2 separate regions of the Homo sapiens genome follow, and region 1 is linked to region 2. The links come from fine-mapping of genetic effects on gene expression. A gene starts in region 2. The other region holds a variant in brackets. All regions are shown on one strand. Distances are from middle to middle. Region 1 overlaps SLIT1 (slit guidance ligand 1). Region 2 holds the start of ARHGAP19-SLIT1 (ARHGAP19-SLIT1 readthrough (NMD candidate)).

The links. PIP is the estimated chance that this variant, and not a neighbour inherited with it, causes the effect.
Region 1: its variant is fine-mapped to the expression of ARHGAP19-SLIT1 in anterior cingulate cortex (GTEx, PIP 0.99). The same link has a PIP of 0.9 or more in prefrontal cortex.

The regions. Positions count from the first base shown.
Region 1 is chr10:97,139,894-97,142,803 of GRCh38, forward strand. All of the region lies in intron 4 of SLIT1 (slit guidance ligand 1), which reads right to left. Among named protein-coding and RNA genes, the nearest start is that of SLIT1-AS1, 39 kb to the left of the region's middle. RefSeq lists an enhancer at 952-1,692. The variant G/A (reference allele first, on the strand shown) is at 1,232.
Region 2 is chr10:97,291,085-97,293,994 of GRCh38, forward strand. ARHGAP19-SLIT1 (ARHGAP19-SLIT1 readthrough (NMD candidate)) reads right to left here and starts at 1,589. Exons shown (of 15, transcript NR_037909.1): 1 at 1,488-1,589. It overlaps ARHGAP19 (Rho GTPase activating protein 19), which reads right to left and starts at 1,553. Exons shown (of 12, transcript NM_032900.6): 1 at 1,488-1,553. The coding sequence starts at 1,543. RefSeq lists enhancers at 365-1,123, 1,124-1,880 and a silencer at 1,225-1,274.

The DNA.
Region 1 (2,910 bases), 150 kb before region 2:
GGTCCAACCACGGGGTCTCAGCAAGGTGCCCATCGCCCCTCACTATGAATGGGGTAGGCAGCAGCAACAGAAGCCTCTGCTTTGTGCTGATTTCTGGCACTTAGCCTGAAGCTCCCCTCTTCCTCTCTGTCTTTCCAGGGGCCTTGCAGGGTGATGAAACCCCAGCATGGCTTTTCCTCTTCCCGCCATCCCTCACCCTGACCATGTTCCTGGGAGTGGGAACATCTCTGGCTCTGACCATGGGGAGGGTGAAAGAGTGGCCCCTGTCTCCCTGCCAAGGCGGGTGTCTCGCCACCAGAATTTATGTGCCAGCGTTCCTCGTACCAGCTTTTCCCAGGTTACCTCCCTACCCATTACTACCCCATTAGTTGCCATGTGTTTTCCCCTAACTGTCACCAGCCCACACTGCCTCTTTGTTACCCTGCAGCTCTCAGGCCGGCCCCTCCCCAACAAGGGGCTAAGCTTCAACTTCGAATTGTGAAATATTTCCTCCCTCTCTCCTGTTCCCCTCCCACCGCCCTCCTTGGGCCCCAGAGCCTTTAGTAAAACAAACCCGCCAAAGGGAATTCTCCGCTGTGTTTGCACAGCACGAGTGGGCCCCCAAGTTGCCTGGAGCCCCTCATTCTCCATAAACACACTTCCCCTCCTTATTGGTATTCAGTCGATACCTTCCTTTCTAACCCTTCCCTGCTTGGCCTCCGCGATCGGCCGACAGAAGGGCCTTTGTTGAAGGAGCAGAGGGGTACAAACACCAGGGCCCCAAAGACAACTACGTGGACTTCAAAGGGGGAAATGAGTCATTGCTCAGCGGGCGATGGCTGGGTGGGGGCAGCCCAGGGGAGAACGGGCTCCTCGGCACCTCTGGTTTTGCCCAGGGATAAACCTCCTGTGTCTCTTTACAAATCAGACATCACTTCCAAAGCGATTTGTCGATTTTTATTGTTCCAAATTTGACTCTGAAATGTGGGCCAGAATCTGGGGTCTGGTAAATATTTTGTTACACAGCTCACTGGAACCACTTTGCTAGAGGGGATGGCTTCCAACACTGAGGCTCAGGCTAGGGGACTTCCAGGCACCCACCAGCTGCCAGTTGCGTGTGTCTGTGAGCAGATTAACCATCCGAAACACCGCTTGGGTCGGCTTCTTCCCTACTCGCAAGTCCTCCACGGCTCCCTTGTCGGAGGCTCTGCATGTAAAAGCACCCCGAGGCTATCAGACCCTGGCTCCCGAC[G/A]ACAGCTCCAGCACGCAGTTCTGGCAGATGCGGATTCAGCCCCTCCCTGAACTCTTCCAGGAATGAGGTGACAAGCACAGCAGCCCACCCTTCAGCAGCCAGCTCGTGTCTAGGAAGCCTGCCTCGTGCAGAACAACATCCACTTCCACCCCTGGACCCAGCTTCTAGAACAAATCTGCTTCCTTGTCCTCATGACAGCCCTTCACATAGATTTGAAAATTACTCTCAGGGTTCCTCTACATTTTCTTTTCATCGCACCAAACAGCCCCAGGCCCCTTGACTCTATCCCATATGAAATGGTTTCCAGATGGCTCCCAGTGTTAGCCACCCTCCTCCAAGCATGTTCAGAGACCTCCACACAAGCACACGCGATAAAACAGATCCTGGTTCTGAACACTGTTCTCTGGATATGCTTGAATCAGCACAGACTAGAACAGGACTGCCCTCCCCTGGAGAGGACACATTGCCTCTATTAATTCAAACTGAGACTATACTCTTTTAGCCACCTTAATGCACTGTATTGCATTGTATTGTATTGCATTGCATTGTATCGTATTGTATCGTATCGTATCGTATCGTATTGTATTGTACTGTATTGTATTGTACTGTATTGTATCGTATCGTATCGTATCGTATCGTATTGTATCGTACTGTATTGTATTGTACTGTATTGTATTGTATTGTACTAGACAGGGTCTCACTAAGTCATGCAGGTTGAAATGCAGTGGCATGCTCATGGTTCACTGCATCCCCAAACTCCTGGGCTCAAGCAATCCTCCTGCTTCAGCCCTCCAGCCTCCCAGTAGTTGGGACTACAGGTGTGTACCACCACACCCAGCGAATTTTTTTGTTTTTATAGAGTAAGGGTCTCACTGATCTCTGGTCCTTGGCTGGTCTCTAACTCCTGGACTCAAGCAATCCTCCCACGTGGGCCTCCCAAAGTGCTGGGATTACAGGCATGAGACACCATGCCTGGCCTCTTAACATACTCTTGACTTAACCTTAGCTTGAAGTCATCGGCCCTTTCACAACAAATACTGCCAAACCAGATCTCTCTTCTTAAAAAAAAACAAAGTTGGAAGACTCATACCTCCCGATTTCAAAACTTACTACAAAGCTACAGTAATCAAAAGAATGTGGTACTGGCATAAAGACAGACAAATAGACCAATGGAATAGAATAGACAGCCCAAAAACAAACTCTTGCAAGTATATGTGGACAAGGGTGTCAAGATCATTTAATGAGGAAAAGACAGTCTCTTCAACAAATGATGCTGGGAAAACTGAATATCCCCATGCAAAAGAATGAAGTTGGACCCTTATCTGATACCATATACAAAAATTAATTCAAAATGGATCAAAGACCTAAATGTAAGACCTAAAACTAAAACACCTAAAAGAAAACATAAGGGGAAAGCTTCATGACATTGGACTTGGCAGTACTTTCTTGGATATGACACCGAAAGCATAGAAAACAAAAGCAAAATAGACAAATGAGACTACATCAAACTTAAAACCATGTTTGTCAAAGGACACAGTCAAAAGAATGGAAAGGCAACTTATGGAATGGAATAAAATATTTGCAAATCATATCTCTGATAAGGGGTTACTATCTAGAATATACAAAGAACTGCTGCAACTTAACAACAAAAAAAATCAAACAACCCAATTAAATAGTAG
Region 2 (2,910 bases):
GCAAAAACAGGAGGTAAAGAAATAGCCAATCATCTCTTGCCTGAGAGCACAGCGGGAGGGACAAGGATCAGGATATAAACCCAGGCATTAGAGCCAGCAACGGCCACCCACTTTGGGTCCCCTCCCTTTGTGTGGGAGCTGTGTTTTCACTCTATTTCACTCTATGAAATCTTGCAACTGCAAAACAAAAACAAAACAAAACAAAAAAGAGTGGAAAACTCTTCCATATCATATTTTATTTTATTTATTTATTTGAGACATAGTCTTGCTCTGTCACCCAGGGTGGAATGCAATGGCGCATCTGGGCTCACTGCAACCTCCGCCTCAACCTCCTGAGTAGCTGGGACTACAGGCGCCCGCCACCACACCCGGCTAATTATTGTATTTTTAGTAGAGACGGGCTTTCATCATGTTCGCCAGGCTGGTCTCGAACTCCTGATCTCAGGTGATCCGCTCCCCTCGGCTTCCCAAAGTGCTGGGATTACAGGCGTAAGCCACCATGCCCGGCCCCGTATGATATTTTAAATAACACACTCAACCACGCTCATCTGGGCTCAGGAAGAAGCCGAGTCACAAAGTTATTAGTTTCCCAAGATTCTTGGAATCTCTTATTCGGTACAAATGGAACCAAAAGACGCCAAACCGAAGTATTTTACTGAGTTACACTGAGGCAACGTAAATAAACTCAATCTATTGAATTACACCAAAAACAAAATTGTAATCAATTAAGACAACTTAGGTCTCAAGGCTAAGGCAACACCACCTCGAAATTCTCTCCTGAAAACGCTAAATCTCGGTGTGGCTGTTTAGGAAAGAACATCCTGTGGAAATAAAGTCATGATGTCCTGGACTACAGATCCCTCTCCCATCTGCTCCTTAGCTGTTCTACTAGGAAGAAGAAAATCTATTGCGTAGAGTTGTCATTATCGGCTAAACTCAGTGCTAGCTTTAAATGGATTGTCTTATTCAATCTTGACACTTGGAAATAGGCATCCTCACGTCCCTTTGCAGATGAAGAAACTGAAGTCGAGAGAGGTTTAAAAACTGGCCCAAGGACTCAACACTGTTTCTAATTGACACTCAAATCCTTGCTCGGACCTGAACGCACAAAGTGCCTCGGAGAAGATGTGAAGCGCTGTGTGCAACAGTGAGGAATTCGCTAACCAGCCCTGGACTTCCGTTTCCTCGCCATCAAGAGGTGTCTCGGCGCCAAAGCGATCAGCGCTGCCACCCCCAGCTGGACGTCTGCAGCCAGCGCAGCGGGAGGAGCCCCCTCGGGCACCGGCAGGACCGAGCGGGGGGTTTGGCTGGAGTCCAGCGCCCAGGCCCGACCCCCGCGCCTCAGCCCCCGCAGGCGCGACGATGAGAAACGCCGTGGGAGAAAGAAACAAAGCCCGAACCGTGCGCCTCCGTGACCCAAGGCAAAGGCGGCAGGACTACCAGCCCAAGGCCGCGTTTCCCAGGAAACTGGACCAAACTCAGCTCACCTCCGGCCGGATTCGCGGGCTGGCACCTCCCCTTCACTCTGTGCCTCAGTCGCCATCTTCGTCAGCAAACTTCTTTCACCGCCCCACCTTACGTCCCGCCCCCACATATTTGGATTGGCTAATATGTTTTCACCTCTTCCGTGCGATTGGATGACTCGACCGCCCCTCCTCAACCTGAACCGTTTAATATATTATTGGTCTATTCAAATGACTAACCGTCATTGGTCGTTCCCAGCCCTGGCGGAAAAAGAGGGAGGGGCGGGGAAGAAGACCCAGCCCCGAGGCCTGCCGGGAGTTGTAGTTTCTCATTTTGATGAACCCTTCCGATTCCACAGACCTTTAGGTTCAAGTCAGAAATCACCAGCCTATGCTCAAATTTTGTCCTGATATGTAAATCAGGGAATTATAGAACTGTCAACTTTGAAAGTGACTCATCACTTTCTAAAATGCAAGACTCCGTACCCTATATCTCAGCATCACACAATATACCCAGATAACAAACCAACTCATGTACCCCCTAAATTTAAAATAAAAGTTGAAAATAAATAATTTTTTTTTACAATTTTTTTAATTTTTTTTTTCTGTTGAGACAGGGTTTCACCATGTTGCCCAGGCTGGTCTCGAACCCCTGAGCTCAAGCAATCCTCCTATGTCAGCCTCCCAAAGTGCTGGGATTACAGGCATGAGGCACTGCACCCAGCCATAAATTAATTCATTTAATTTAATGTAATTTAATGCAAGACTCGTTCTCTGTCTTGACCCAGAGATAAATCCCTCAAGTGCAGGCAGGGAGTGGCAACCTAGAAGTACTTGCTTTTAAACGTATAGTTCAAAGCCTTCTTTCTTCAGATACTCAGCATAGCCCTAGCCATAGGTCATTTCTTTCTTCCTTTATTTCTTTCTTTTTTTTTTTTTTTTGAGATAAGGTCTCCCTCTGTCTCCCATGCTGGAGCACAGTACAATATTGCAGCATACCAACACACAGGGCAAATTTTTGTACTTTTTGTAGAGATGGGGTTTCACCCTGTTGGCCAGGCTGGAGTCGGTCATTTCTGCTTCAATACATTCACTCCCTTCCAACTTCCCAGAGAACCCACAGAGTTTGCCTTGTGATATGAACCATGGAACCAAAAGCTGCATGACTTTGTCCCAAACTAAACTTTAATCCTCAATGGTAGGAATAACCATAATTATCCTTGTCCTCCCTGCGGCACACACTTCTCCTAGGGATTAACTGAGGCAACATATGTGAGAACATTGTAAATTTTGAGCATTGTTGTTTTTTGTTTTTCCATATTGTTTTCCTATGCTGGACTTTTCTCGGGAATTTCTGTATTGATCCTTCTGATATCCTGCCACCTGGGGCTCTCCCTGCACTCTGCCTCCTTTTTACTAAACTGTACTGCACATGCTTCACTTTCTG